4 separate regions of the Homo sapiens genome follow, and all the other regions are linked to region 4. The links come from fine-mapping of genetic effects on gene expression. A gene starts in region 4. Each other region holds a variant in brackets. All regions are shown on one strand. Distances are from middle to middle.

Evidence for each region. PIP is the estimated chance that this variant, and not a neighbour inherited with it, causes the effect. A credible set is the group of variants that fine-mapping cannot tell apart.
Region 1: its variant is the best candidate, but not a certain one, in a credible set for the expression of SNX25 in whole blood (INTERVAL, PIP 0.51).
Region 2: its variant is the best candidate, but not a certain one, in a credible set for the expression of SNX25 in tibial nerve (GTEx, PIP 0.78).
Region 3: its variant is the best candidate, but not a certain one, in a credible set for the expression of SNX25 in prefrontal cortex (ROSMAP, PIP 0.56).

Annotation. Positions count from the first base shown.
Region 1 is chr4:185,263,360-185,271,466 of GRCh38, forward strand. SNX25 (sorting nexin 25) reads left to right here. Exons shown (of 19, transcript NM_001378034.2): 4 at 1,079-1,251; 5 at 3,610-3,796. Among named protein-coding and RNA genes, the nearest start is that of SNX25, 58 kb to the left of the region's middle. RefSeq lists an enhancer at 2,519-3,020. The variant T/C (reference allele first, on the strand shown) is at 4,715.
Region 2 is chr4:185,340,214-185,348,320 of GRCh38, forward strand. SNX25 (sorting nexin 25) reads left to right here. Exons shown (of 19, transcript NM_001378034.2): 12 at 1,763-1,903; 13 at 6,324-6,437. LOC124900827 (a long non-coding RNA gene) reads right to left here and starts at 1,774. Exons shown (of 3, transcript XR_007058416.1): 1 at 1,698-1,774. RefSeq lists enhancers at 1,542-1,591, 1,972-2,091. The variant A/G (reference allele first, on the strand shown) is at 4,069.
Region 3 is chr4:185,931,844-185,939,950 of GRCh38, forward strand. It overlaps a transcript of SORBS2 not described here. Among named protein-coding and RNA genes, the nearest start is that of SORBS2, 120 kb to the left of the region's middle. The variant G/A (reference allele first, on the strand shown) is at 4,343.
Region 4 is chr4:185,206,192-185,214,284 of GRCh38, forward strand. SNX25 (sorting nexin 25) reads left to right here and starts at 3,407. Exons shown (of 19, transcript NM_001378034.2): 1 at 3,407-4,064. The coding sequence starts at 3,636. It also overlaps a transcript of CFAP97 not described here. RefSeq lists silencers at 3,106-3,685, 3,796-3,955, 4,026-4,215 and an enhancer at 7,689-8,008.

The DNA of each region.
Region 1 (8,107 bases), 57 kb after region 4:
AGCTGGCAGCAAAGCTAGAGTTTAAAATAATTGAAGATGCCATTTTTAAAAAGTCAGCGTATCAGTATATGCATAAAGGCTTATTCTAAAAATTTCCTTTCATGTTGCTGGCTTTACACATTAGGATAGAATTCCTTCAGGTTGTACAAGACAGAGGAAACCTTTCTTTTCTAGCGTTATACACTCTAGAAACTAGTTTCAGTCTCCAGTGCAAAATAAATTTCAGTTAACACCTGAGAGGCATGGGTCCTAAAGGTACTAATATGCACTAGTTTCATTTCCTGTGCAGTACCTAGTATGTTTCTCTCCCTCTGCTTCATGTTTTTTCTCATTGTTAGCTACTAGTTACTGTAAAAATCTCTTATACTTTGCCTCCTCATCTAGAACATATTAGAAAACGCAGCATCCCAGGCTTTCTTGAATCACTATCAAGATACTATGGGAAGGGAAGTATAGAAAGTTCTGTTTTCCAGTCCTCTTCACTCAGATCCTCCAAATTAATGTTCCTGGGATGGAGTCAGTACAGGGAAGTGCACAACCAAGGTTGTCAAGACTGGTTGAAAAATACTTTGGAGCCTCACAGAAGGCAATTTGCCATCAAATTAGATAACGTCGAGTTTATAGACCCTCTAGCTCACTAGAAATACCTGTAGACTTTTTATCCTATTATCTCCCAGTCAGAAAGCAGGCTGGCAACCCTGGTTTATGCTTTGTTAGGTTTTTTTGAAAAATGAAGCTGCAGGTCATATTTAAGAAAACATCTAGAAGACTTAAAAATTACTAAATAAATACTCGTACCTTTTTAGATTGTTGCTGTGATTTTGGAGTTATATAGACCCTTTGATGCTACTGAAGTTCGTTGTTATGATTTCATTTGAAATCCAAAAAAGGCCATGCATTTGCATTTATTCTAGCAAAAGTTTTCCAGATGAGTTGATGGTTGAGGAAATTTGATTATTTAGGAGATGGCAGTTACTATAACCAATGTGTTTCTCATTTGAAATATTTTTTACCTAATAGTACATAATTGAATTGTTTCTAGAAACTTCTTTCCTTCTTTTTCACTCTCTTTATTTAGACATGAAGAACAGCCAAGACCTTTTGTGTTGCACGCATGCTTGAGGAACTCAGATGATGAAGTAAGATTTCTACAAACGTGTTCTCGGGTTCTGGTGTTTTGTCTCCTCCCCTCAAAGGATGTGCAGTCTCTCAGCTTACGTATAATGCTTGCAGAAATTCTCACAACAAAAGGTAGACTTATACAGTTGATTTCACTAATTCAATAAGTGTGCAAACTAATGTGCTACATGCAGACCTTGTTTACTGTTGAACATATGGGATTTGAAGTATTTTCAAAATCTTGTTTATATGTCTCTAAAACTATTTGGCCATTCAGGATAAACTTAAATTTTTAATATGACATATCGCCAAATGCACAGTCCATTAAGTTGCATGTTTTGACATAGAAAACAAGTTTTTATGCTCTTCACAGGGAAGCATTCATTTGGGATAGCTTTTGAGTTATCTAGGCCAATAATATATACATTAATGAAAGTATGTGTATGTGTGTATAATATCTATATAATATCCATAGTATGTATGTTTATATATTACGTGTGTGTGTGTGTTCAAATTCTTTTTTTTTTCTTTAAATAGAGATGGGGGTCTTACTATGTTGCCCAGGCAAGTCTTGAACTCCTGGGTTCAAGTGATCCTCCCACTTAGGCCTCCCAAAGTGCTGAGATTACAGGTGTGAGCAACCATCCCTGACCACAGTCAAATTCTGATTAGCATATTTACTTAAAATATCTTTGCTATATGATTTGTTGATAATGCGTATACAGTAATGCATTGCTTAACAACAGGGATGTGTCCGAAGAAATGTGTCATTAGACAATGTCATTGTGCAAATATCATAGAGTGTACTTACACACCTACATGGGATAGCCCACTACACATGTGGGCAATATGGTGTAACCTATTGCTCCTAGACTATAAACCTTATACCATATTACTGTACTGAATACTGTAGGCAATAGTAACACAATGATATTTGTGTATCTAAGTATAGAAAAGGTACAGTAAAAATATGGTATAAAAGATAAACAACAGTACACCTATATAGGACACTTACCATGAATGGAGCTTGCAGGACTGGATGTTGCTCTGAGTGAGTGGGGAGTGACTGTGAAGGCCTAGGACATGACTGTGCACCACTGCAGACTTCATAAACAGTGTACGCTTAGGCTACACTACATTTATTTAAAATTTTATTTTCTTCAATAAATTAACCTTAGCTTACTATAACTTTTTTTACTTTATGAACTTTTAATTTTTTTAAACTTTTTGACTCTTTTGTAATAACATTTATCATCATTATCAAGTATGCACTGTACATAATTGTATGTGCTGTATTTTTATACTATTGACAGTGCAATAGGTTTCTTTACACTAGCTTGACCTCATTAAATGGTAGAAAATTTTCAGCTTCATTATAATCTTATGGGGGCCACTGTCATATAGTCAGTCTGTTGTTGACCAAAATGTCATTATGTGGCGCATGACTGTACATAATTTTGTGAACTTGGAATATGTAAAAAGGAACTGTACCACAATATAATGTGATTACTAGAAAAAAGTTAACTATATCCAGGGAAATGCTTAGTCAGGATAAGAGAAACTTTCCCTATCTCAGTCTCAGACAAATAGCATTGCATTTGAGATGCAGTGATTATCTCATTTACTATCTCAGGATAAGCCAGCTGTGCCCATCAGCTATTATAACCAACCACAGAGAAGAGAGGAAGTTTCTAATCTCAAGTTACAAGGATGGCTTTGTAATAGTGTCATTGACTTTTTAACTTCCTCTCTGAGGTCTGTTTTAACCAGTTGGGGAGAATGTTGACTTTCATCCTTTGGCAGACTAAGCTTGTCAAAACGTATTGAGCCTTATAAAATAAGTAAAAGAAAAAAATCAGTGTTTTTTTGGTTGTTGTAATTTTGTGGTTTTTTGTTTTTTGAGATGGAGTCTCACTCTGTCGCCAAGGCTGGAGTGCAGTGGCGAGATCTCGGCTCACTGCAACCTCTGCCTCCCGGGTTCAAGCAATTCTCCTGCCTCAGTCTCCCGAGTAGCTAGGATTACAGACATGTGCCACCATGCATGGCTAATTTTTGTGTTTTTGGTAGAGATTGGGGTTTCACCATGTTAGCCAGGCTGGTCTCAAACTCCTGACCTCAAGTGATCCACCTGTCTCAGCCTCCCAAAGTGCTGGGATTACAGGTGTGAGCCACCACGCCCGGCCTTAATTTTGATAGATTTGTTAGCAACTTGAGTTCCAAATGACTTCCCTTCATGATTCTTTTACATTTCACTTATTTATTAAAATGACAACTTGATTATAGCCATGGATGATAACATATTTGGAGGGATAGGCAGCTGTATGTGTGCATGTGTGTACATTTTTGAATTGTTTATTGTATTATATAGATATTCCCCTGTTTGACTACTTGAAAAATGTTTCCCAAATGTAGTCTCAGTTATGTGATACATAAACAGTTCCCTTAAAGAAGAATACCTTTCTCAGTGGCTATTTCTTCTTCTTCCTGTAGTCTTGAAGCCGGTAGTGGAGTTACTGAGTAATCCAGATTACATTAACCAAATGCTGCTTGCCCAGCTGGCGTACAGAGAGCAAATGAATGAGCATCACAAGAGAGCCTACACCTATGCCCCCTCTTACGAGGACTTCATCAAGCTCATTAACAGCAACTCTGATGTGGAGTTCTTGAAGCAACTAAGGTATTTGGTCTTCAATTATAGCACAGCAACAGCTACTGATTATCATCCCCTGCCTAGTTAGGTTAAAAAAAAAAAAAAGTAGTTGTCAGGGAAGCAGAAATAAAACAAGTCTATAAATCTTACTATTTAGTGACAGCTAAATTTATCCAGCGTCTCCTTAGCAGTGTAATTAGAATGAATTTTTTTAAAGTATTAGGTTTTTCAAATACAGTTGACTCGAACAATTTGGGGCACCCACGCTCCCCACCGCCCCCACCCCCAGTCAAAAATCACATATAACATTTGACTTGGGCCAAGCACAGTGGCTCAAAAGTGCTGTAATCCCAGCACTTTGGGAGGCTGAGGTGGGCGGATCACTTGAGGTCAGGAGTTCAAGACCAGCGCGGCCAACATGGTGAAACCGCATCTCTACTAAAAATACAAAAATCAGCTGGGTGTGGTGGCACATGCCTGTAGTCCCAGCTACTCAGGAGGCTGAGGTATGAGAATCACTTGAACCTGGGAGGTGGAGGTTGCAGTGAGCTGAGATCACACCACTGCACTCCAGCCTGGGTGACAGAGTGAGACTCCTTCTAAAAAAAAAAAAAAAATTGACTCTCCAAATACTTAACTACTAAATACCTTACTGTTGACCAAAGCCTTACTAATAACATAAACAGTTGATTAGCACGTATCTTGTGTGTTATATGTGTTATATACTGTATTCTTACAATAAAGTAAGCTGGAGAAAAGAAAATATTATGAAAACCAGAAAGAGAAAATATATTTACTATGCAGTAAGTGGAAGTAGATCATCATAAAGGTCTTCATCCTCATCTCTTCACATGGAAGTATGCTGAGGAGGAAGAGAATGAGGAGGGGTTTGTCTTACTGTCTCAGGTGGCAGAGGCAGAACAAAATCCTGTGTAAGTGGACTCA[T/C]GCAGTTCAAACCTATGTTTTTCAAGAGTCAGCTGTAATGAGGCTATAATAGACTGAAAGCTCTTCAGATGTCGGGAGTACCTGCTTAGCTGCTCAGATGACTACCTTAGAAAAGCACTGGAAGGACATCAGAAGGAGAAGATGTGTTTCAAATTACAGAGTAGAACATTGTGTTGGTTTTTGTTTGTCTTGGACAGTACAGAGGCTTGGGTTTGGGAATAAGAGGTTCTAGATTAATTATTTTGAGAAAACACATTTGAAAATACCATAGGAGTATCTTTTATAGGGGAGCACAGTGTCCCTTGTTATACCTGAGATATTTTAGGGGGTGTGTATTTTTGTGTATTTTTAATAGTATATACACATTTAGTATGATTATATAGTATTATCTAGTTTGTAAATTTTCTAGGCTTCTGTTTCTCTACCCTTCTTTTTAATGTTCCCAAATGATAATATAGGGGAAAGAAAGAAAACTCTTATATGTTCATTTTGCTTTTCATTAATAATTTTGGTAAAACCCTGATGGAAAAGTAAAATATTGGTTGAAATTGGGTGTTTGAATTAGTCGAGGTTTTTAAACTTGTGACATTTGCTTTTGAACTAGGGTTAACATTAAGATGACTCATGCTGTTTAATTTTCTGATTCGAATAAAGCACCATCTAAGGAGGCATAGACGTAGATGGCACTGTGTTCTTATACATGGTGTCATGTGTTAATCTAGGTGTCACAAATACATAATGACAGCTTCAATTTACAAATACATACCTCAAATACATAATGACGGGTTCAATTTACAAATATATACTCAAATATATAATGATGAGTTCAATGTAAATGGATTTGTTTACAAGGAATTTAATTTTGGGTATAATATATATCTGATGTAATATCTGGAGATTTAATGTTTCTCTTGCCATGCATAATTTTGAATAGACTACATGATATTCTTTATAGATTTGTTTTTATTTCTGTCTGAGTCTAGACATTTCTTTTTCGTAAGTGTGATGCTTGAGCTAGAACCCAAGAGCCAGTATTCCAGGTTTGTTATGTGAGGCTCACAGGTTACATCCACTCAAGTCATCCTTATCATAGTGTCCTTCGATTCCTTTTAAAGCATCATTCTATAAAAGTGAAAGAGCTCAGTGGTAGAACACCCTTGTTGCCTCTCCTCTCCCTAAAACTGTACGTACACACACACACCCCAAACTCTAGTTGTAGGGATGCTATTCAAACCTATACTCGAATACTCATCTACCTGGTGTTTTCGTGCCTGCTGTTCCTGGATTTGCTGTGCATGGTGTGACAAGGTGACATGATGACTATGCCCCACAACGTTATAAATTCTTCCTAAGTCATTGTTTATGAACAGATAACTCATGTTGATAATTTGTGGCTTCATTGAATTCCTGAGCATTTTTCTTTGACCAAATAGTCGTTCCACAGTAAAGGCAGGTGTGGACTATTTGGTAACCCCAAGTGAGTTTAAGATAACAATCTAGAGTCAATAGTGGCAGATTAAGAGAATCAGTATTCCTTGTTCTTACAGACTTGTGGATGAGTGTTCTATTTTGTGTGCCAAACTGAAGATTCCAGCACTGCACATAGGGATGTATTTAATAGTTAATGGAGGAAACAGAAAGGCATCAGAGTTTTGTTGTTGTTTTGTTGTTGTTGTTGTTTTTTAAGAGACAAGGTCCTGTGGTGTTGCCCACACTGGAAACAAACTCTAAGGCTCAAACAGTCCTCTCCCTCAGCCTTCCAAGTAGCTGGGACTACAGGCGAGCTCCTGATTTTTTAAAAATCAGAACTAGTTATTTTGAATGATCTACCACTGGTTCTCTAGCACCATCTGTTATTTTGTATCTTAACACAGTTCCTGTATTGTAAGATGAATGAATCTTGATAAGAATTAATGGTTTATCTTCTTCAAAATGTACCAGCCAAAGATTCAGAACTATTTAAATACTATATACAGTTCATCATCTGGTAGACAAAGAAGTAGCTCAAAAAAAAAAAAAAAAAATCCCAGCACTTTTGGAGGCTGAGGAGGGCAGATTGCTTGAGCCTGGCAGTTCAAGACCAGCCCGGGGAACATGGCGAAACCCCGTCTCTACAATAAAAAACAATAAAACTATGGTGTACACTGCCCCAGGATGATTGAACAGCTTACTTTTATTGCAGTAGGCACATCATGGATTGCCTTAACTTGATTGACCAAAGATTACACTGAAGTTCTGATTTTATGTTTTTCCTTTCCCTGCTACTATGTGATGAAACAAAAATAGTGTGAGCCCTTAATCTTTCTCAAAGATCGCTTCCTCTTGACGTCATAAATAGGGCAAGATTAAAGGGATAGCACCTGGGTGCCCTGGGAAGCAGGCCCTTTGGTCTTGAGCACTGAGGGACTTAAGAGGCAGTAGAAGTGCTAAACTGAAGAATACCTTTTGAAAATGAGATATAATTCACGTACCATAGAATTCACCACCTTTAAGTGTACAATTCCGTGGTTTTAGTGTATTCAGAGACTCTGATTGTCACTACTATGTAATTTCAGAATATTTTCATCACCCCAAAAAGAAACCCTGTGCCCACTAGCAGTCACTCCCCATTCCTTCCCTCCCTCCAGCCCTTGGCAACCGCCAGTCTGCTTTCTGTCTCTATGGATTTGCCTAGTCTGGACATTTCATGTAAATGGAATCATGTAGTATGTGGCCTTTTGTGTCTGGTTGCTTTCACTCATTATGTTTCCAAGGTTCATTTGCATTGTATAATGTATCAGTGCCCCATTCCTTTTTTTGGCTGAATAATATTCCATGGTATGAATATAGCACATTTTATCCTTTCACCGGTCCATGGGCAAGTTGGATTGTCTGCCATTTAAAGGATGCCTTTTGAGTGACCGTTGAGCATCTTCAGTGACGTTGTCAGTGACTGTTTACAAGTGAGAGTAAAATAAAATGTTGCAGTTCCTAACCTCTTCCTAGTATGGCCTCCTGCCACAGCGTACCCACCGCTGCCAAGGAGTGATGGGACACAGGCACCAGGAAGGTGCATTCCTTTTGTGCACTATTCCTGTTCTGTATGTTGTATATTCCTCTGTCTTCCTTCTTACTACTAGGCTTTGTGTTTCCAGCAGAGTTTGCAGAGTCAGTGGGAAGGGCACTTGGAGGTATTTGGATTAGATAATCGAGCTTGACAGGTGACTAGTCTATTAGAGGCAAAAGGGATACATTCTCAGACTTAATTAGGTTGCATCCTTTTATAAGCAATCTCAGCTCACTGCAACCTCTGCCTCCGGGTTTAAGCGATCCTCCCACCTCAGTCTCCCAAGTAGCTGGGACTACAGGCACACGCCAGCACGCCTAATTTTTGCCATGTTGGCCAGGCTGGTC
Region 2 (8,107 bases), 130 kb after region 4:
GTATTTAATATGGCTTATCTTTGTTCTTCCCTGCCTTTCCCTCAAGCCAGTGGCTTGACACTCTTACAGGGGTTGGGAGAGGGTCAAAATTCACGACCTTAAATTTATCTCTAGGTTGGATAGCAAAACAAAGCATGTTCTCCAAGACCTACCCTGAAGGGACACACAGTACATGAGGGCCTAACCAGGTGCCTTCTGTATGTCTTTGGCACTTGCTGGTGCTCCCATTAAGCTAAGCTGCTGAACAATACACATTTCTCCATGGAAGGCAGAGAGCAGTGGATCAGGGAAGGTCATGCCCAGCCTCAGACTCCCACATAGAAACCCTCAGTAACTGCAGATAGTTACTGTTTGGGTGGAACTGTAGGAAGGTAATGGACTCAGGGGAATGTAATGGCAAAAGCTGCTACAAGAGGCTGCTGGAGGACAGAATACAAATTCTGTTACCTCCTCAGTTTTGCTTAGAGCTGGCCCTGACACTTCACAGTGTATTAAAATCATCTTCCAAAGGCAGATATTAGGGGGAGCAGAAAGGGAAGGAAGGAGTGGAAACCATCACAAGGGTCTGTGCCCTGGCCGTCAGTTGCTGCTTGCTGAAGCACTCTGGCTGGTGAAAAGATAGTGGAAATGGGAAAGGGGCACCTGACGTCTAGAGCTCACGAAGCAGTCCCAGAAAGGTGCGGAGGATGCATTTTCATCAAGCTGGACGTGCCTGTATTCTGTGCTAGCTGACTCATCAGAGGTGTGGTCCTAGGAAAGTCAGGGACCCTGTCTGTGCCTCTACTTCCCTATCCTTACAGTGGGGTGGTAATCCTGCCTCACAGAGTGGGTGCTCAGTAAACCTCTCATCTCTTTCCCTGGCCTTTCTTATTGACTCCTTCTCTCTCATTCAATTTATGATGCTAATTCAAGCTCAAATTCAATGTATTTTCTATTGTTTTCTCTTAGCTTCTTATGTTAAGTATAGTAGTGGCCTATTCTGGATTAGTGTGTGTGTATGTGCACGTGTGCACGCATGCACACATACAATATCTCAGTTGGGAGGTAAAGGAAATTATATCTCCCAATGTAAAATTTAATGAGAATAGAAATCAGGGCTTGTTGGATCCTGAAATTAAACTGGAGGTGCCCCCATCCTTCTCTGAGAGAGTTTCTGATGTATTTGATGGCTGTTTGCTTGCTGTTAATTTCTTTTCAAAGTAACACAGGATGAGCCTGCTGTATAGTTTTCTTTTGCTGTGTAACACATTTCATGCTTAAAGCAACACCCATTTATTGGTCACACCTCTGTAGGTCTGGAGTCCAGCACAGGATGCATTGGCTCCCTGCTGATTGTATCACAGGCCGAAGTCAGTATGTTTCCCAGACTAAAGTCTTGTCTGAAGACTCAGTAAAACCCACTTCCAAGCTTATTCAGATTGTTGGCAGAATTCAGTTCCTTTGGTCATAGAACTGAGATATCTGTTTTCTTGCTGGTTTCCTTCTTGGGATTTGAATCTTTCTGACTTCCTTTCGTATCACTGGCTAGCAAAAACTCTTTGCTTTTAGGTTAGGCCCACCCAGGAAATCCCCCTATTTTAGTCTACTATGCCATATAATGTATCTTAGTTACTAGAATAAAATCTATAATATTCACAGTTCCAGGGATCCTGCAAGGTACATCACGGGGAGGGAAATCTCCTTAGGGGGACACTTACAGATCTTCCTTCTGCATCCATTCACCATGCTTTTTGTAAGTATCGATTTTGATGTTTTCCCCAAGGTTACAGAAGAGAATGGTGAGCAATTGCCATGTTACTTTGTCATGGTAAGCCTACAAGAAGTTGGAGGAGTTGAAACTAAGAACTGGACGGTCCCCAGAAGGCTCAGCGAGTTTCAGAATTTACACCGGAAACTCAGTGAGGTATGAATACTCATGAACGCAGTATTCTAGAATTACTGCACAAGAGCTCATTTCAATTTTACACATAAGAAAGCTGATTAATCTTCTTCCTTTGCTGTTGATACTGGCACAGTGGCATTTTCATCCTGACATTTGGAAATTTACTCATAGATCAAACCATCTAGTCTAGCCTAAGTCCATCAGGACAGATAACGGTCTGATTTTCATTGTAAATTGCCAGAGAACCCTAGAGCTGGAAGAGACCTAAGGATCACCTAGGTATCTCACAACTGGCAGCTGCCGATTGTGATATCTTGATGGTAGTGAAATCAGTTGTGAGTTGCAGCAGTAGAAAGAATGAGCTGCATTGGATTCTATCACATATACAAGGGAGGCAGTAAGGTGCGGTGCTTGGAGGATTCTATCACATATACAAGGGAGGCAGTAAGGTGCGGTGCTTGGAGGATTCTGTCACATACACAAGAGAGGCAGTAAGGCGCGGTGCTTGGAGGATTCTATCACATATACAAGGGAGGCATTAAGGCGCGGTGCTTGGAGGATTCTGTCACATACACAAGGGAGGCATTAAGGCGCGGTGCTTGGAGGATTCTATCACATACACAAGGGAGGCAGTAAGGTGCGGTGCTTGGAGGATTCTATCACATATACAAGGGAGGCAGTAAGGTGCGGTGCTTGGAGCACAGCCTCTAGAACCAGACTGCTCAGCTCTGACTCTCAGCTCTACTCTTCATGGCTGTGTGACCTGGAATTTATTTATTTATTTATCTATTTATTTTTATATATATATTTTTTGAGACGGAGTCCTGCTCTGTCGCCCAGGCTGGAGTCCAGTGGCGTGATGTCAGCTCACTGCAACCTCCGCCTCCCAGGTTCAAGCGATTCTCCTGCCTCAGCCTCCCGAGTAGCTGGGATTACAGGCATGTGCCACCACACCCGGCTAATTTTTGTATTTTTAGCAGAGACGGGGTTTCACCATGTTGGCCAGGCTGGTCTCGAACTCCTGACCTCGGGTGATCCACCCACCTCGGCCTTACAAAGAGCTAGGATTATAGATGTGAGCCACCTTGCCCAGCTGACCTGGGATTTATCACTCACTTGCTTTTTGTCTCTTTTTCATCAGTGAAAACGAATACTAATAGTGCCTACCTTATGGGGTTGTTATGAGAATTAAGGGAATATATGTATATAAAGCATTTATAAGAATGTGTGGCACATAGTAAACATCATTGTGTTTTTTGGTAGTAGCAGTAGTAATGAGCATTGTTTCATAGACCTTTGGTTTCAGTTTTATTTATGTATATGTATATATGTATGTGCATTATGGATTGCAATGTAGCATGCATTTCCTACTGTGAGTTTCAGTTAAAATGTTTGAAAGCCACTAATCTAGGTTAATTCTTTTATTTGAGAGAGGAGGGAAACCGATCCCAGAGCTTAACTGACTTGTCATAGGACATGTACATAGTGGCTAAATCAAGATTATTAATGGAATCTTACTTTTAGATTATTCTTCCTACTTTTCCTCAGGAATTGCCATCTTCTCTAATTCTCCTTCTACTATGGGTCATTGCCTTTTTTCCCCAGCAGTGAACAGTTCTTCAATTATTTCTACTTGAATTTAGGTCCATTTTTCTCTTGCTTAGCGTGAACTGATACTGGTGAAACTATAACTGTCAAAGGGTCCAGCTGCTTGCTGCTTGTAGAAAGAAGCCATCATAATAATAACAAGAGTGAGGCGTGACAAAAAGAGAGTGAGATTTTACTATCCATGCTAGCAAGGGGAGGAGTGGGCAAAATTCTTTCTAAAACTTTCCACCCTCAGCCAGGCATGTTGGCTCACGCCTGTAATCCCAGCACTTTGGAAGGCCGAAGTGGGCGGGTCCCTTGAGGTCAGGAGTTCGAGACCAGCCAGGCCAACATGGTGAAACCCCCATCTCTACTAAAAATACAAAAAATTAGTTGGGTGTGGTGGTGCACGCTTGTAGTCTCAGTTTCTCAAGAGGCTGAGGCAAAAGAATCACTTGAACCTGGGAGGCGGAGGTTGCAGTGAGTCAGGATCATATCACTCCACTCCAGCCTTGGCAACAGAGCAGGATTCCATTCCAAAAAATAAAAATAAAAATTTCCAGCCTTCAACTGTGGAGGGAACCCAGGGGATTTTAAAG[A/G]GAGGGTTTGGAATGCAGAAGAGGCAGCAGGTCTAGGGAGTGTCAGATGGTGTGATCTGCCCTGATGGCTCGTCTTGAATTATTGTTCCATCTGGTGAAGCATCCGGCGCCACTGTGGCCAGAGGTGTCTGGTCCGTATCAGGATCTGGCCCTTGAAGCTTCTAAGGAAATAGATGACCAGATAAGGAGCGTGGTGTGCGCTTAACAAGCATGTGGGTAAATCAGTGTGCATAAAGCATGGGAGCACGGGATGGGGAAAGAAAGGGAGTGGAGGTTCACAGCAGATGCCCAGGCTGTATTTCAGAATGAAAGGAAACACATACGCAGCCTGTCTCAAAGTTACATCTTGAGATTAAGGAGGAAGGAGGAAGGAAAACAAAGTTTGAAAACACGGTTTGAAGCCACGCTGCTCCTTTACAAAACCTCATGGGCACCTCTCAGACTCCTCTTCTATGAATGAAATGTGTCTCTTTTCTTTAACCTTGTCTCCAGAGTGATTTTTTAACCTGTTTTCATCACTACATACTATAATTTCTTCAACTGCTTTTTAAGGATAGTGACCCAAACTGAATGTCATGCATGCTACATTTCTCAGATGGCCTTTGGTCACCTTAGCACTGTGGAAAGCAAAAATTTGTCTCAGTATAACAATGAATTTTCCCCAGAGTTGTTGAGTAAAATTGATACTACAGAAAAATGTGTTGTTTTCTCTGTGGAAAAACTATTGTGAAACCAAAGTTTGTATCAAAACAGGAGGAAAAAGAGTTGAGGGAAAATTTTGAAATGAAATGTCTTTGGAAGGTAGAATTTACTTAGACAATCAAAACAATTAGATGGAAGCATTAAAAGAAACAAACATGAAAGTCCATGCCCGTCCTCTTTGTCATCTTTCCTCGTCTGTGGACTGATGGCTGGGCTATTCTCTTACCCCTGCCCTTTCCTACGGTGTGAGTTTTCCTGTTGTGAGAACCCTTCCTGTCGACAGCTGTGACAGGAAGTACCTTTTTGGGTACTTAGTGATTTTAGTCTTCCCTTCCAACTCTCACTGCCTGTTTCATTTCTCTGAAATTTCACAGAGCTGTTGTAAGCATGAAATAACACATGCTATGCTTCTAGCACAGTGTCTGGTAGAAGGGAGGACTTAATCCACAAAGGGTGCGCTCTTCGTACTATGAATATATTTTGTTAATATACTTACAATCTACAGTTTGCCACTGAGAGGCAGTAATAAGGCCAGGAGTGGTGACTCATGCCTGTAATTCCAGCACTTTGGGAGGCTGAGGCAGGAGGATCGCTTGTATCCAGGAGTTTGAGACTGGCCTGGACAACATAGACTTCGCCTCTACAAAAAATTTAAAAATTAGCCAGGCATGGTGGTGCATGCTTGTAGTCCCAGCTACTTGGGAGGCTGAAGTGGGAGAATCGCTTGAGCCTGGGAGATCAAGGCTGCCATGAGCCATGATCACGCCACTGCACTCAGCCTGGGTGGCAGACTGAGACCCTGTTTCAAAAAAAAAAAGGAAAGAAATGCAGTAATAGAGCTACAACCCAAGTTTTCTTTGTTCCCATTGTTTTCTTTTCTTTTTATTTTTTTTTGACTGGGTCTCACTCTGTCTCCCAGGCCCAAGTGCAGTGGTGCAACATCAGCTCACTGCAGCCTCCACCTCCTGGGTTCAAACGATTCTCCTGCCTCAGCCTCCCCAGTAGCTGGGATTACAAGCATGTGCCATCACGCCAGGCTAATTTTTTGTATTTTTAGTAGAGGCAGGGTTTCACCATGTTGATCAGGCTGGTCTTGAACTCCTGACCTCATGTGATCCAGCTTCCTTGGCCTCCCAAAGTGTTGGGATTACAGGCGTGAGCCACCACGCCCGGCCATTTTCTATTGTTAACTTTAGCTTTTTACAGAGATGTTAAAAACACAACACCTTCTAGTTGAAAAACTTTCTGTGAGCCAGGTTTCCATTTGTCACATCATGTGCCACCCTGCGTGGTGTGCAGATCCCTCGTACCAGCCTGGCCTTGTGACTTCCCAGCTCCCGGGGATCTGTAGGTTTGGGGATGTGCTTTAGTTTTTTCCATCAAAGTTTCCGTTCCTCCCAATTCTTCGAGCCTCATTAAGATGGGTAGGTTTTCACCTCAGAGGAACAAGTACAGGAGGAGGATATTTGTTTTGTTCTAATTGTTATTCTAAATCTTTTTTAAGATTAAAATGTAATTTCAAAATACTAACATTTCATTTTTTCCCCCCACAGTGCGTCCCTTCTTTAAAAAAAGTCCAGTTGCCTTCTCTTAGCAAGCTGCCTTTCAAATCTATAGATCAAAAGTTTATGGAAAAGTCGAAGAATCAATTAAATAAGTTTTTACAGGTAAGCAAGTGAAAAATGTGGGATATGAGAGAAAAAATTAGTTATTTAGGGTTAAACTGTCATCATTCTACGAGCTTGGTAGTTTGCTTTTTGTTCTCACAAGCCATGCTAGATGCTAAAAAAATATCTTGGGTGTTTTTTTTAATTAAAGGAAAATACACATATAAAAATACACGTAAGTGTATAACTGTCTCCGTTTCACAAACTGAACACACCCATGTAACCAGCACCCAGTCCAATGCACTGGTTATCACCAGCAGCCCCCAGCTTCCTCCCATCGCTGCAGCCCCTCTAAAGGCAACTGCTGTCCCGACTTCCAGCACCATAGATCAGTTACAGTTGTCTTTCAACTTTATATAAATGGAACCGTATAGTGTGAATTCCTTCGTTTCTGACTTCTTTCACTCATTATGTTCATAGGACTCATCCATCCTGTCATCTTAGTTGTAGATGATTCATTTTCGTTGCTGTGAGAGGTTTTCATCGTGTGAATACACTGCATTCCAAATTCATTCCGTTGTTGATGAGCCTTTGGCTCCTTTCCACTCTGAGGCTTTTACAAAGGGTGCTTATATAAACGTCTAGTACTTGTCTTTTGACAAATATCTGTCGGCTGATGCCCAGAGATTAGGATTTCTCCATTTTTCTTCATGGTCACAGCAGTTTTATACTCTCCCCAGCAGTGTGTAAGGGTTCTGATTGCTCCACATCCTCACCAACACTTATCTTTTGCGTTTTTATTCTTAGCCATTTTGGGTGTAGTAGTATCTCATTGTGTTTGGGGGGTTTGGTGTTTTTTTTTGTTTTCTTTTGTTTTGTTTTGTTTTGTTTTGTTTTGAGACGGAGTTTCGCTCTTGTTGCCCAGGCTGGAGTGCAATGGCGCGATCTTGGCTCACCGTAACCTCTGCCTCCCGGGTTCAAGTGATTCTCCTGCCTAAGCCTCCCAAGTAGCTGGGATTACAGGCGCCTGCCACCACGCCTGGCTAATTTTTGTATTTTTAGTAGAGACGGGGTTTCTCCGTGTTGGTCAGGTTGGTCTCAAACTCCCAACCTCAGATGATCTGCCCACCTCGACCTCCCAAAGTGCTGGGACTACAGGCGTGAGCCACTGTGCCCGGCCATTTGTTGTGTCTCCTTTTCTATTGTGCTGCTGCTCATCCTTTCCATAATGTTTTATGGGTTTGTCCATGTTCTGGATCTGAGTTCCTTGTCAGATCTTACGTGCTACAAATATTGTCCCCCTTTCTATGGATTGCCTTTTACTTAATGATTGCTTTTAATGAACAGATGTTCTCAATTTTAATTTAGCCCACTTTATCATTTTTTTTATCTTATGGTTAATGCCTTTTGCACCTATTAAGAAATCTTGGCCTACTCCAAGGCCCTGAAGATATTTTCTTAATTTCCTTTAAACACTTTATTATTTTCTATCAGTCTGTTTTTAAATAATAAGGCCAAAGGTGTACTGTCCTCAATAACAACCACTTTTTTTTCCTTTGCTGCACCATCTATATTCAGAGTATAATTGTTAATCACACTTTGGATCTTAAAGCCCTGAAGTTCTCAGAGGCATGGAACTTTGCCTCATAAAACATGTTTTGCCTCTGCAGTAGAAGCTAGACATTCTGAGACTGAAAAAAAATGTTCTGAATATTTGTATCCTTTAAAGA
Region 3 (8,107 bases), 730 kb after region 4:
AGAAAGATAACAAGGACATGTAAGTAAATGGTCTAGCCTCTAAGTTTACAGGAGTTAAGAGAAAGTGAGTAAAAGTGTGTGGAAAAGAATTCTTATATGAGATTGCCCTAGAGTACATCTTAAGGGAAGAACCTGTCTCTCTCTCTCTCTCTCTCTCTCTATATATATATATATAGATAGATATAGATATAGATACAGATATATATTTAGTGTGTGTGTTTATTATATATTTATTTATATATGTGTGTGTTTATTATATACACATAATAAACACACACCTTGGTAAACCACTTGGAGGAAGGGGCCCCAAGATCATGAGGAAATGAGCTGACTCAGAAGCAGCTGAACAGCAATGCTTGCGGGATTAGGAGGCATTTGTCAGAGGGGCAGCTACGAAGGGGGCAGTGGAGGGAAAAAAGGATGGATCCCCTGATATACTGAAGAAATCTTGCAAAGGACAGTGGAGGGTAGAGAGTAGGGTGTTAAGTCAACTTTTAATAACCACACACGGTTTTGACATGTCCACTGCTGCTTGTCTGCAAGCAGAAGTGGCGTGATTCGATGATAGTCTTACTTCTGGATGGCAAGGATGATTTTTTGGCCAGACAATACTGTTATCATTAACAACAACAAAATCCCCACACATTAAGTACTGGGTTGGCTGAAAACAGACCTATACCAAATCAACACCTCACCATTAAGGAGCTAAGCCTACCGCACGGCATTTTCTCTTTAGCCAGAGCCAAGATTTTATGAGAAAATATGAAGAGAACAGAGAGTTGCCGGAATGCAATGTCACTGCATTGCAGGGCTGTATTTGTTGGCAAGCATCTGAGACCAGCCTCTGCAAACTGCTGTAGGCAGGGCCTGGCCTAAAGCGGATGAGCCCCCCTGGGGCTCGGTTGCCCTGGCCACACCATGATCCTTCTCTATGACTTACCCTCTGAAGAAAACACAGCTTTTCCTAGCAGCTAAAAAACAGTTTCTCTAGACTTTTATCTTCCATGATAAATGCAGATGTTTAAGGGTCATTTTGTAAATTATCCTTCTACAATGTTTTCAGTTCTCAATAATCAACTACTTGATACTCACGAGAAAAGCAGAATTCTTCTTAAGCCTTCTGATTCAAAATGCTTCTCCTAAAAATGTCTTCCTCTGCTAATAAAGTGTTTCACATCATTACAACACGGAGAAAACATGTAGATCCCAGGCAGTCCAGGCTATGATGAATATCTCCAGCTTTTCAGAAAGACAAAGTTGATTCCACATCACTGTGACTCCTAATGACCAGTTGTCTCAAGGGAGGTCTGAGTCACAGTCCCAGCAGTGTCTCCAAAGGCAGTACGGTGCTCATGGATAATTACAGTTTCATATGTTGGTAAAAACACAATCCACCCAGTGATCTCATGTCTACTCGAACGTTACAGCAGTTCTAGAGTATCGCTGTAGAATCATCGTGAACTGTGGTATTTTGCAGTAACCATTAAAGTACAACAGTGTTTGAATCATCTGTGGGTCTATTCGTCTGCTTGGGCTGTGATAACAAAGTACCACAGACAGGATGGCTTAAACATCCTGTGAGAAATGCATCCTGTGAGAAATGCATTATCTCACAGTTCTGAAGGCTGGAAGCCTGAGATCAAGGTTATAGCAGACTGGTTCCTTCTGAGGCTGTGCGGGAGAGTCTGTTGCTTGCCTTTCCCCTTGCTGGCCGTCTTTGGCTTCCTTGGCTTGTAGACGCATCACCTGGATCTCTGCCTTCATCTTTGCACGGTATTCCCCTTGCGCGTGTGTCCATGTCCAAACTTCCCCTTTTTATAAACAAGGACACCACTTATATTGGATCAAATGCCCACCCCACTCCAAAATGACCTAATCTTACCTAATCTGTTAATTTACCAGCCACTCATTTCCCAAAAAAAGTCACATACGTAGGTACTGGAGGTTAAGACTTCAGAATATGAATTGGAAAGGAAACAGAATTTAGCCAATATCAGTGGCATTTCAGTGAAAGTAGGCCACCTGATATGAAGACCCTTCTTGAAAAGATTACAGAGCTTAGGAACATAAGTTGACCTCCAACTGGCTTTAAAGTCTCTCTATAGATGGCCTGCTAAGCTGCACACTTTCCAGAGACTGTGGTTTTGTTCTCAATCAAAAGTCTTTCCTTCAAAGCATTTTTCCCCATAGGAAAAAATAAAATCTTTAGGGAAGACACATCCGTCAACTTTTCCCAGTAGGTTTCATTTAAAGTCCCTCTCTGGTTGGCACTTTTGCTGACTGATTTCTCTTTTAACCCTCATGTCTTTTCCCGCATGCCATTGTTGGATAATATAGCAATTCGAACACTGTTTGAATAACAATCTAGAGGACAAGAGCCTTTCCTGCTTTCATTCATTTATTCATTCCACAGATGATTTTCAGAACCGCTCTTCATGGCGTGACCTCTGTAAGCCCTTCAGGATAAAACATGAATAAGGCACTGTCCCTGCCACGCAAAGGCTTGCACTCACCAGTGAAACAGAATGAAGACACCCTTCTAGAATAAAGGCATCCAATTTGCTTTTGTTTAGAAAACTCTCACCCTTCCACAAAGCAATATGAGATTTTACATATTAAAGAACAAAAAAATTTTGGTCAATCACGGTGGCTCACACCTGTAATCCCAGCACTTTGGGAGGCCGAGACAGGTGGATCACCTGAGGTCAGGAGTTCGACACCAGCCTGGCCAACATGAGGAAACCCCAGCTCTACTAAAAATACAAAAAACAACAACAACAACAACAACAAATTAGCCAGACATGGTGGCGGGCCCCTGTAATTCCAGCTACGTGGGAGGTTGAGGCAAGAGAATCGCTTGAACCCGGGAGGCGGAGGCTGCAGTGAGCTGAGGTTGCACCACTGGACTCCAGCCTGGGCAACAGTGAGACTCCATCTCAAAAAAAAAAAAAAAATGAGAGAGAAATCAAGGCAGTTGCTGACATTCAACTCTAATCAGATACTCAAGACGGGGTCTGTCTTTCTAAACACTGTTCTGTGGCCCCCTCTGTGCATCCCTAGACTGCTCAAGGAGAAGATGCTTGATCATGGCTCTTCGGGATAGTTTGTTACTGAGTCAGGTCGCTTCTCCATAATTTGCACTTTAGGTGTTTTGGATAGTACCTTCTATGTATGAAATATGTTCTGCCTTTCTGTTCCAAGTCAAATCATTACAGATATCAAAATCAGCCAACAATCAAGGCTAATGTAGCTCTTTCCCCAGTTCTTAAGAAAAATCCAAAGAAACACAGTTTGTACCCACAAACCAATAGGCAATGTATCAGTTAGTAAAACCCGATCCAAATTCAATAACTGAGAAGTTTTTCTGGTCCTTAAGGCACAAGGGGTTCAATCCCAAGTATCTACTATTTCCACAAGCTTCTGTCCCACCATAAAGGGGCTGAGTCTCAGCTATCAATACCACATTTTAAATTTATTATTTTATGCTTAAATATCACTTATCTGTAACAAGAAACTCAAAACTAAGCCATGGGAGATAACACGTTTAAGAGACTCCTTGACTTTTGCATCAGTTTTCTCTGCCCCCATAAGCTTGTTGAGATATAAAGCAAGATAATGGCAAACACAAAAATGTCTCTCACTATGTCCCAGCACTATTCCAAGTGCTATAGCAATATTAAGACATTAGATCATTAGAACAAACTCCACCAAAAGGCCAACATTTTACCATGAGTAGCCATTGTTAGTACCCAAGAACTAGTTCTTTAGACATACCAACTTTAACTAGGGTATTGATAGGGCTAATTATCACCAATTTGAAGCTGTCCAGTTAAAACCTAGAACGGTGGGCTGTTTTTGAGATATGTATATGGGTGGAAAACATGATTTACTCTCCACAGAGACACCAATAATCAATCAGAGCCGTAGTTGGTAACACAGAGCATCATGGGAGAATGTGGAAAAGAGACACAGGCTGCCTTTGAAAATTAAGTGGGAGAGTAGTGAACAGGTATGTTTTCTTTTTCTTTGTGACATGGTCTCACTGTCACCCAGGCTGGAGTGCATTGGTATGATCTCGGCTCACTGCAGCCTCTTTCTCCCAGGCTCAAGTGATTCTCCTGCCTCAGCCTCCTGAGTAGTTGGGATTACAGGTGTGCACCACCATGCCTGGCTAAGTTTTGTGTTTTTTGTAAAGATGAGGTTTCACCATGTTGCATGTTGGACAGGCTGGTCCTGAACTCCTGAGCTCAAGTGATTAGCCCGACTCGGCCTCCCAAACTACTGAGATGACAGGCGTGAGCCATTGCACCTGGCCAACGGTAAGTTTTCAATGAGGAGACAC[G/A]TGCTATTCAAACTTAGTCCCATATTTAGTTGTGCGAAGAGAAGTAAATATAAAGCCTTCACAAGAAAAGCACCAAGGCACATGGTTTATCCTGGCTCTGGTTGGCTCCAGTTTCACCCACCCTCCATCCCTGCAACAAATATTTATTGATGGCCAACTGAGAGTGGGCAGTATCCTCAGTTCCAAAACTACAAAGGCTGAATGCAGTTGCACATAGGCAATGGGTACTGAAACCATCAATTACACAAAGTTATAAAGTACGTATGGGAACTCACAAACAGGATATTTAGGAGAAGGAGGTGGTGGGAAGCTTTCAAGACAGAGAATTGAATGTTCATAAGTGTGACATATTCAGAAATTAATTTTTAAAGTAAATTTCCTCAAATCTAATCTAAATTTTAATTCTGAATTCTTCAAGCTGACCCTTGCCACCATTGATAATAGTGTGATAACCATAAATCCCATATTTCTGATCATTCCCAGTTTTGAGTATTCTGTCTCTTTGTCAAGTCACATGTCCCAATTTTAGGGCTAGAAAACATGGTCATCACGTTGATTAGAAATGCAATTTACAGAAGATTTCCCTTTCCGTCTGCTTCTAAGACTATGCAAGAGTCTCCTTTCACCTCCCACACTCAGCTTCTGCTCTCACTACCAACAGCACAGCATGCACGGCACGGCACAGCATGGCACGGGCTGTCAGTTTCACTGAAGGTGGAAATTCCTCAAGAATGCCTAATTAGAATGTTTTAAAAAATAAATTCAGCTTCTTAGACAGTAAGAGGACTACCTTCTAAAAGATTACATAGCACAGTTATTTTAATTCCAAATGTAATTGAAATTCCACTCAGAATTGTCTTCTTGAATGACAAGTCATTCTATTTCAACAATGACATTGACTGATTTTAATTATGACATGGTTTCCTGTCAGCCTGGTGCTTGAACCCGATTTTAAGGAAAACTCATTCATCTCGTGCTTCTGCCAGTGAGTGAGTGAGTGAGTGAGTGAGTGAGTGCTTCACGAGAACTGGAGGAGCATGTTTCCTACGCTTTGAGAAATACATGTGACCTTTTGAAAAGTATATCAAGTTCTGCATTGTACTAGCAGTCTCACCGTGGGTGAGGCAATTTCTTGAAACTTCTGTTTATTTACTCTTACAGTGAGATAGGTTCAATTTTTCTTAACAGAGCTATTGTTAGGGTGAAATGAAGTAGCTGCTTAGCCATGTATCTGAATCCAAGATTTTTGCTCTTTATTGACACCATAATGCCTCAATCTTAAGGTTGATGGGCACTAAAGTGCTTAACTTCAGAAGTGGAGAACTCCATATTTCCTGAGCCCAGGAACAAATGCACTAAATCCTTCGTCAAAAAGTACCTCTAGGTCTGTCCTCCTGCCCCAAAGTGATGAAAGATGCATTTAGCAGGGCTCTACATCCTTGGTTCAGTCCTCCTACAGGCTCCTGATTCGAAAGCTCACCAAGTGATGCCTCATTAAAACCACTTTATTTTAGCTGGAAGTGGAGGGGAGGGGGAAATGAGGAATGAGGAAGCAATGAACACAGAATGATGTGAAGAGGGATGCTGCCTCAGCAGGGACCGGCATCCAGCCCCACAGGTGCTGTGCTGTGGAGTCGGCTCCAGCATCTACTCCTTTCTGTGCTATGTAAGTGGAGAATTACACATCTCTTCAGAGTTGGAATATCTTCTCCTCTCTGCCCCTTCAAACTCAGTGTCATCTTTGGAAATAGCAGCTCACACCACTACTGCTGTTCAGAGACTGTCAGTGGCTGCCTGCCTCCTAGGTTTTAGAGAAATCATTCTTTTTTTTTTTTTTTTTTTGAGATGGGGTCTTGCTCTGTCACCCAGGCTGGAGTGCAGTGGCATGATCTCGGCCCACTGCAACCCCCACCTCCCGGTTCAAGTGATTCTCCTGTGAGTAGCTGGGATTACAGGCACCTGCCACCATGTCCAGCTAATTTTTGTATTTTTTGTAGCGATGAGGCTTCACCAGGTTGGCCAGGCTAGTCTCGAACTTCGGACCTCAGGTCATCCACCCGCCTCGGCCTCCCAAAGTGCTGAGATTACAGGCGTGAGCCACCACGCCTGACCAAGAAATTATTCTTAACATTTTGTAGTTCAGATATTCTTTTGATAATCTAGGGGAACCTAGGATCCTCTCACCCAGAAAAATGTAGACACATACACACACACACACACACACACACACACACACACACACACACCCTTTTATTCTAGTTCCATGCTCTAAAACTTGTCCACAAACTCCAGACTGAACAACTTGCTCAGGAAGATCAGAACTCAAACTTCTTATCCTGCGTGTCAAAGCTCTCTGTAATCTCACCATTCATCACCCAAGACTTGACCATTTCTGAGATCCCAGTGGAAAGCATCCACTCTGATAATTATCTCTGATCATTCCAGGCAACTTATCCTAGTATCTACACTCTGGTTACGTTCCACCTCCCCGAGAACCCCAGTGCACCAACCCTATGAGTTTCCCGCCTGTCAGCACCACTCCCCACAACTGCTTTCCCCCCCAGCAGCCTGGAGGCCAGAACCCACCAGTGCAAATGTCCCTTCATATTCTGCCTTCATCCCCTGCTCCTCTATTCTCCCCCTGTACACATGCCTGGCAATACACCAGTCTGTTTACATTCAACCCTCTAACTACATTATGTCCGCTTCAAAGCACGAAAGCAACAAAGAAAAAGGATGCAAATGTGCTGATGGGTCTCACTTTTAAAGACATCACTACGCGGCTCAATCAGTATTTAAAACTGCCTGGTGATTCTAACAGATTTCCCGATAAATACTCCTGTTCTCTCTCCTAAAGGAATACTCAGTGCCTTTTTATCTTTTGTTCAGCCCTTTAACCTCTGCGCCCTGGCCATATGTTGATGGTCTTGCTATATACTTTAAGAAAATAGAAGTATTCTGACAAAAATTACTTTATTTTTCACCCTGAATGCACCATTTTACCTAAATTTCTCTCCTCTCTCATTTTATTGAACTGTCCATCCTTCTCTCATCAGACAAACTGACCCATTGTCAACAGTGTATTTTACCTCTTCCATTCCTCAACAAATTCTTCCGTGCAATTGTTCCTAATATCCCACTGGATCATCAGTTTCCTTCTCTTCACTGGAATAGTTCCATCAGCATTCAAATATGCTGTAATACTTCCACCTTAACCAAAAAACAGTGTGTTCTTTGGCCCACGTCCCTCTCTGACTGCTGCTCTATTTCTCCCTTCTCCTTCCCAGGAACAGTTCTCCAAAGAGGTATCTGCACTTCCTGTCTCAACTTTCTTTTTTTTTTGAGATGGAGTTGCACTCTTGTTGCCCAGGCTGGAGTGCGATGGCGCGACCTCGGCTCACCGCAACCTCTGCCTCCCAGGTTCAAGCGATTCTCCTGCCTCAGCCTCCCTAGTAGCTGGGATTACAGGCACGTGCCACCACGCCTGGCTAATTTTGTATTTTTAGTAGACAGGGTTTCTCCTAAAGTTGGTCAGGCTGGTCTCGAACTCCCAACCTCACGTGATCTGCCCGCCTCGGCCTCCCAAAGTGCTGGGATTACAGGCATGAGCTACCACGCCTGGCCTGTCTCAACTTTCTTAACGCCCATCCACTGTCTCCAGAATCAACTCCAGAAAGCCCTTCATCCCCATGCCCCCAGTGAAACCATTCTCATCATAGTCACCAACACTCTCCACCTTGTCAAATCCAGATGTCTGTCCAGAGT
Region 4 (8,093 bases):
CAGATACTTATGCACCCATGTTCATAGCAGAATAGCCAAAAGGCGGAAAAAACTCAAGTGTTTGTTTATCAACAGACAGATGAAGCAGAATGTAGTAGATACATAAAATGGAATATTATTCAGCCCATGACTTGTGCGCCTCTGGTCCACATAACAACATTAAGATGGTCTGCAGGACAGACAGAATGGAAGATGTATGCCGGGCATGGTGGCTCACTCCTGTAATCCCAGCACTTTGGGAGGCCAAGGTGGACAGATCCTGAGGTCGGGGGGTTGAGACCAGCCCGATGAACCCCATCTCACTAAAAATACAAAAAATTAGCCAGGCATGCTGATGCATGCCTGTAATCCCAGCTACTCGGGAGGCTGAGGTAGGAGAATCTCTTGAACCGGGGAGGCGGAGGTTGCAGTGAGCCGAGATTGCGCCATTGCACTCCAGCCTGGGTAACAAGAGCGAAACTCTTGTCTCAAAAAAAAAAAAAAAAAAAAAAGAATGGAAGATGTACTAATCTTGGTTCAGAAAGACAGAACCAAAAGGATATAGATAGATATATGAGCAGGAATTTATTAGAGGAATTGGCTTACATGATTATGGAGGCTGAGAACTCTGATGATACACCCTTCGCCGGCTGGAGAGCCTGGAAAGCTGGTGGTGTGGCTCAGTCCAACTCTGAAGGCCTCAGAACCAGGGAATAGGATGGCATAACTCTGAGGCAGTAGGCCTGAGAACCCAGGAGGCTGCTAGTGTAACCTGGAGTCTCAACGCCAGAGCCTGGAGTTCTGATGTCCAAGGATGGGAGAAGAGTGTATCCCAGCTTCAGGGCACAGAGGAAACCACCTTTTTGTTCTTTCTGGGCCACAGCTGATTGGACGGTTGCCCACATCAAGGGTGGATCTTCCCTACTCAATCCACTGACCCAGGGGCAATCTTCTTGGGAAACACCCAGAAATAATCCTTTGTCAGTTTTCCAGGTAATCCCAATCCAGTCAAATTGACACCTAAATTTAACCAGTCACACTTTTTTTTTTTTTTTTTTTTTTTTTTGAGACGGAGTCTCGCTGTCGCCCAGGCTGGAGTGCAGTGGTGCGATCTCGGCTCACTGCAAGCTCTGCCTCCCAGGTTCACACCGTTCTCCTGCCTCAGCCTCCCGAGTAGCTGGGACTACAGGCGCACACCACCACACCTGGTTAATTTTTTGTATTTTTAGTAGAGACGGGGTTTTGCCATGTTGACCAGGCTGGTCTCAAACTCCTGAGCTCAGGTAATCCAGCCACCTCGGCTTCCCAAAGTGCTGGGATTACAAGCTTGAGCCACCACGCCTGGCCAACTATCCACTTTTAAGCATGGAATGCAGATCAGGATCAAGAATTTAACCTTTTTTTTTCTCTTCTGTAATATGAGATGAGTAAATCAGAGAATTCTTAGGAAGCATCATGGCATAGCGATTCAATGCACAAGCTCTGAAGCTGGACCACATGGAGTAACAACTAAATCCTAGTTCTGTTATTGATTAGCTTTGCAATGTTGAGCATGTCATCTTACCTCCTGTGCTTCAGTTCCCCGCTGTGTAGATGGAGATAATGGTATCCATCGGGGTTGCTGGGAAGATTAAATGAAGTATGTTTGGTCCTTAGAATAGTATCTGGCACACAGTAAGTGCTGTTAGTTACTATTATGGTGAGCTAGGGCTAAAATTGAAAAATTAATTTAAATTTATCATAAAGAATTCAGAATACAGTCCTCGGCATGTAAATGATCAAAAAACATAGATTTGGTTGTTGTTGATAACAAGCCACTGTGCTTTATTTGAATAATTTGGGTTGGTAGGGTACACTTTGAGGGGCTCCAATTGGGTGAAAATTAACAACTATTTTAGAGGCAAAAGGGCTTCTTCAAAATTAATCATACTGCTTTATTTATTTTATTTTATTTTTGAGACGAAGTCTCACTCTGTTGCCCAAGCTGGAGTGCAATGGCGCGATGTCGGCTCACTGCGACCTCCACCTCCGGGGTTCAAGTTTCACTATGTTGGCCAGGCTAGTCTTGAACTCCTAACTTCATGATCTGCCCGCCTCAGCCTCCGAAAGTGTAGGGATTACAGGCGTGAGCCACCGTGCCCGCCCCTATTTTCTTAAAAAAGGAGGAGAAAGGAAACTGGTAACTTATTTTGATCATCCCCTTGGCATGGCAAAGTCACATCTAGCATGAGGCACTCTTCATTTCTGACTTAGAAGGTTTAAGAAAGAATGAAATGAGGCCGGGCGCGGTGGCTTACACCTATAATCCCAGCACTTTGGGAGGCTGAGGCAGGCGGATCACGAGGTCAGGAGATTGAGACCATCCTGGCTAATATGGTGAAACCCCGTCTCTACTAAAAATACAAAAATTTGCTAGGTGTGGTGGTGCGTGCCTGTAATCCCAGCTACTCGGGAGGCTGAGCCAGGAGAATGGCTTGAACCCAGGAAGCAGAGATTGCAGTGAGCCGAGATCGCCCCACTGCACTCCAGCCTGGGCAACAGAGACTCCGTCTCAAAAAAAAAGAAAAAAAGAAAGAAAGAAAGAATGAAATGCCCATGAATACCAATTGATACTAAAAGCAAAAGCTACATCTGCTTCTTTATTAGTCTTAGCAGTAATTGCCAGTGTTTAAGTAGCATATTGGCATCTACTTAGCAAGCGTTATCTGTATATTACTGGCTGGGACTATGACAGAAGAAAAGGCAAATATATACTCTAAAAATTATTTGGACCACGTTCCTTTGCGTGGCTGATAGCATTTGAACTGAATAGTTGGTAAAAAACAAAAAACAAAACAAAACAAAACAAAAACCAGAAGTGGAGCCAAAGTGATTATGGGCAGCTGCGTGCACCCTGTTGCACCAGGCCGACTTCTTTGGACCTTTCCATAGCTAGGAATTGCAGGCTTCACTTACTCCACCGCACGTGTCTGATTCCTTCCCTAAGGCGGCAGGGTGGGAAAGGGAAGGTCGTTAGAAACTGTGACAGGGAGTCTCGGGAACGGTTGCCTATTTAAATAGCGAGTGAAAACCAGGCAGAAATGTTTGCCGGCTGTAAGCAAAGCGAAGAGGTTACTCGTCAGTGATGAGCGGAGAGGGAGAATTACGGGATCACCTGAGCTCAGGAATTACCAGCGCCGCTGACACCTGCAGCAAAATTTTCCATGAACAGACGGCATCCTGTAGAGGAGGAGGGGAGCGTGGGAAAGAGAGGTGTGCACCGCGCTGGGTCGCGCCCTCTCCCCGTGGGGCCCCGGCCCGGACCCCGCCCCCGCGCTGTGGGTGGGCGCCTCCCGGCTGTCACTCAGCGGCCGCGGTGGCTCCGGGCCCCGCCCGACACGCACTTCAGGGCGGCCCCGCCCCGCCCGCGTCAGGCTGGCCAGGCTTCAGTCACAACACGGTGGGGCTCCCTGGCTGCGCCCGGCCCGGCAGCTACGGGCCCAGCGCCTGGTGGCGGCGCTGAGGGGTCGCCGAGAGGGGCCCGGCGGCGTCTGCGGGGGCCGCTCCCTCGGTGGGCCGCGGGCGAGGCATGAGCGCGGGCTCCCCCTGCCTCCGGAGCGCCGGCGGGGGACCGGGGGGCAGGAGATGTGCCTGTCCTTAGCGGCCCAGGAAGCAGCATGCACCCCGATGCGACCGACAGTGGCGGCGCCGGCCCCAGCCCCGCGCGGGCCGCAGGCGCCGGCGGCCGTCCTGTCTCGGGCTTCAGGGGCGAGCGGCGGCCGGAGTCCCCGGGGGACGCGGAGGCAGCAGCAGCGGCGGCGCCGGGGGCCCCGGGCGGCCGGAGCTGGTGGAAGCCCGTGGCGGTGGCCGCACTCGCCGCCGTGGCCCTCTCCTTCCTGGGGCCCGGCAGCGGGGAGGCGGCGGGGGCCGCGGGGCTGAGCTCCGTCCTGTTCAGGCTCAGCCTGTACCTGAGCTGCGCGGCGGCCGCCTTCCTGCTGGGGATCCTGTTTGCCCTCGTCTGCCGGAGCCCGCGCGCCCAGCCGCCCGACTTCGCCGCCGCCTGGAGCCGGCTGGCCGCGACCTCAGCCGCCCGCCGCCCGCCGGGGGTAAGTACCCGACTCCTGGCCGCCCAGCTCCGCCGGCCCTCCCCGCTTCCGGTGCCAGCTCCCGCGCCCCGAGCTCCGGGGGGCCGCGGCATGCCCTTGTCGAAGCGGGAAGCCGGGAGCCAGGGGGCTGGGCTGCGGGCCCGGCCGTGGACGCGAGCGTTCCCCGGCGCCCGCGCGCGGCGGGCTCCGGGCTCCGGGCTCCGCGCTCCGCGGTGCTGGAGGAGATGCGCGTTATTTACTGGGCTCTGTAGTCACTCGACAACCATCCTCAGTCACAACCCTAAGGGTGTCCCCAGACCTTCGGTGTCGCTTGCCGTGGGAGGGGAAGAAGGGAATCACAGCGTTCGCTACGTGCAGGCTCTGCGCACGGTCCTGGCGATCCGCTTGGTTCTTCTGGCCGTTCTCGGTGGGAGGCAACTTTATGACCGTTTGCCGATGAGGAAACTTGCTTCGGTCCCTGGCCCAGCGCCTCACCCCCAAGCCCGCGTACCCTTCCCACCACCCTATCCTGCCTTCCACCATGCGGATACGTATTATAGTTGTGCAGTCCCCGCTGGCTTCTGTGATTTGGAAGGGGGATGCCAGAAATCACTGGTTTGCAACAAAAGGAAAGCCATCCTCAGCGCGCTGTGGGACACTAGGGCGGGGGTTAGGGAATGTAGGAAAGAACAGTGTTTTAAATGAGCGCTTCTCTTCTTCAGTGCCAAACCCACTGCCCCATCTTTCTTCCACATTCCTTCTCATAATCCTTTAAAGGGAACTTTATTCTATCCCAGCTTAACACTCACTGCTTGACTGAGTGATACCATCATTCTAATGAAATTGCCCAAGCGCTTTGGGGTAAGATAAATGGCAGTGGCTCAACTTCATAAGAATATTTGTTAATGATCATTTGTCCCCAGGGTTTGTATTTGCTTATCACATGACCTGCTCACTCCTTTATTTTAAAAGAAAGCACCACACTTCACCAAACTACTCTGAGTGTGTTAGTTCAGAATGCAGCGCTGAGATAATGGCGGAAGGCATTAGTAGGTAACAGACATTTCGCTCAGTAGGCTGATAAACAAGGCAGTATATTAAGGAGCAGGCAACTCCTGTTTTTAGAAGTGGTCTCAAAAATTAGTAAAGTTGGTTTCTCTTACAAAATCTCCACTTAGCCATCCGTTTTTCATATCTCATTTAGCAGGAGTTGCGGAGCAGATATGTCTCTCCTCTTTTTTTCTACCATGGCAAGTAAGGACCCTGAGATTTTACTAGTTTGTTTGTTGATCAATAAAATATGTCTTAGTTCTTGAGTACTGTAAGATGTTATAATTCATTCGGTAAATATTTATTGAGCATCTTGTGTGAGCCAGGTACTGTTTTGGAAGCTGAGTTTGAATCAACAGGACACATAAATATCCTGCTCTCTGGAGATCTTATGGGGGAGCAGGCAATAAATAAATACTGTGGGATAGTGATAAATGCTTTTGAAACAGTGATTAAGAGGTAAGAGATGAAGAGGGACTAGTAGGTGAGGGAAGGAAGTTTAGAGGGTTAGGTCAAGATCAAAGTCCTGGTATTGCAGACCATCTCCCAGGGCATTGAAAGCCTCCTGTTGTGGGTTAGCACTCTGTTTCCTGGAAAATGCATTCCCGCAAATCTCCCAGCTCACTGGCACCTCTGGGTAGGTAAAACGTGGATTATCATCTAGAAAGATTGTTTAGTAGAGGAGTTGGAGAAAATAGTATTTTAAAGGTGACAGAGAAAATGAAGCAGCATGTATAAATCTCTCATGAATACTACCCGAAGATTTCAGGTAATAGAAGAGGGGAAGTATAATCTAAGGAAAATGAATATTGGTAATTATTTTTGTCCTTGAATTCCTAAAATAGCCTTAAATAAGAAATTAAGTGCATTAGGGGCTGGGCACAGGTTTCACCATGTTGCCTAGGCTGGTCTTGAACTCCTGAGCTCAAATGATCCGCCCTCCTCAGCCTCGGAAAGTGTTAGGATTACAGGCGTGAGCCACTGTGCCTGGCCTAACCCTGCCTCTTAAAAAAAAAAAAATTTTTTTTTAAATTTTTTAAGTGCATTAGGAAATTACATTCTAAGTTATATATTGCTTAGAACTGAAATACATGTCATTCACATAAAATTCTATTTTCTTTGTAGTACTGGTACTGTTTACTCAAGCCTCTAGTGCTGTATTTCCAATAATTTGTGTGATGTGTGTGTGTGTGTGTGTGTGTGTGTGTTTTTTTTTTTTTTTGCTTTGAGACAGGGTCTGCTCTGTCGTGCAAGCCACCACGCCTGGCTAAGTTTTTGTAGAGACAGGGTCCTCAAGTGATCCTCCTGCCTCAGCCTCCCAAAGGGCTAGAATTATCGGCGTGAGCCACCGTGCCTGGCTGTGTGTGCTTTTTAAATGTTCTCTTCTTTATGAATGGAAGAGTGGGAAGCAGAAGCATGTGGTGTAGTATAAAATATCTACAGTCAGTGCTGTGGGAGCTGGACCACACAGGTCAGCTAACATATGTGGAGGGGGAGGCTGTTTAGCAGTGAACCAAATGGAGCTCCTTAGAATAACAGTGACTGCTACACAAATTTGGATTCAGCGTGAAGAAGAGAATCCTCATTTATCCTTATATATTTTGAGTTCTCCTAGTGTGAGCTAGACATGTCAGACACTGGGATCAGTCCTTCTAGCTGTATATCCTTCCTTCCCTTGTTTTTTCTTCTTGACTTCTTTTGGTAGAGGAAAAAAATGCATACACTGTTAAACATAGGCAACTAGAGAAACCTCACTGAAAAGGGAAAGGGTGTTTTTATGTCTAGAGGTTTTCAAATGCTTCTGAATACTTCATAGTGTAATAGTTATCAAGTGTAAACTGCCTGTGGTTAGGACCTATAATTGACACCTTTTGTTATCACTTACACCTAGCAGGAGCTCAAGAAGTGTTCGCTGATGATGGTGAAGAACGTTATGTCCATTTATGGTCACTAACTTAGTGCTTTTCCCTTCCAATTGAGCTTGTACCTGTTGAGCATCTCCTATGTACATGGATTTTGATTTACTTGGATGAGAATCACTGTTGATTAAAGTTGTAAAAATAATTTTCATCTCAGATAGAAACTTCATCCCAGACTTCCGTGGTATCTTCAGATAGCACAGAAGGTTTTGTGAAGGTCAGGAAGGTTGTTGCTGAAGTCTTGACAGATGATATCTGGATCCCAGTTTAGAAAAACTTGGACTCTTGTTACAGGTGAGCAGAGCGGAGCGGAACTGTGATGCTCTAGGGCCAGCCTGCTGTTGGGGTTGACAGTTGTGAGTCCAGCTTTGTTGTGTGGGTTGTCAGAGTGTGGTGTCCCGTGTCCAAGGTTGTCTTTCTATCTTCTGCCAGGCCAGTTAACTCACCTGGGTCTGAGCCTCAGATTTACTAGCCACAGTTACTTGACCCCAGCACTTGATCCAATCAAAACAACAGCAAGAGAAATAGGGCAAGAATGAATCCATAGTTTAGAAAAACTTACTATCATCATAAGATCAGCAATTCAAAGTACATCTTCTCACAGTGGAAAAGAGGACACCATTTCTTACGTTTTGATGGTAAGAAGGTAAAAGAGAATAACTTTGTCAGTTTTTCTGTTGTGTAGTCTAATACAGATTTTTCTCTTTTCTTTTTACCCTGTGGTTTACTAGATCCTTTTTTTTTTTTTTAGACAAGGTCTCGCTCTGTTGCTCAGACTGCAGTGCAGTGGCCTGACCGTGATGTAACCGAGTACCCCTACTTTCCTAAGAGATGGTTTAATTATTTCTCTCTCTCTTCTTTTTCCCCCAGTTCCCCACTTCCCCTTTAGAAATGCAAATATAGCCTGTTATCTCCCCTTTAGCAGACTCTCCCTGTAGGGCAAGTTCATCTACCCGCTAACATGCCCAGCCCTTAGAGACTTCTTATTTATGTCTCCTAAGTTAAAAAATAAATAGGCAGTTGCCAATGAGGATTGGAGGGCTGATACAAGAAGTCCACAGAAGTTGGGTGTCCTGGGCAT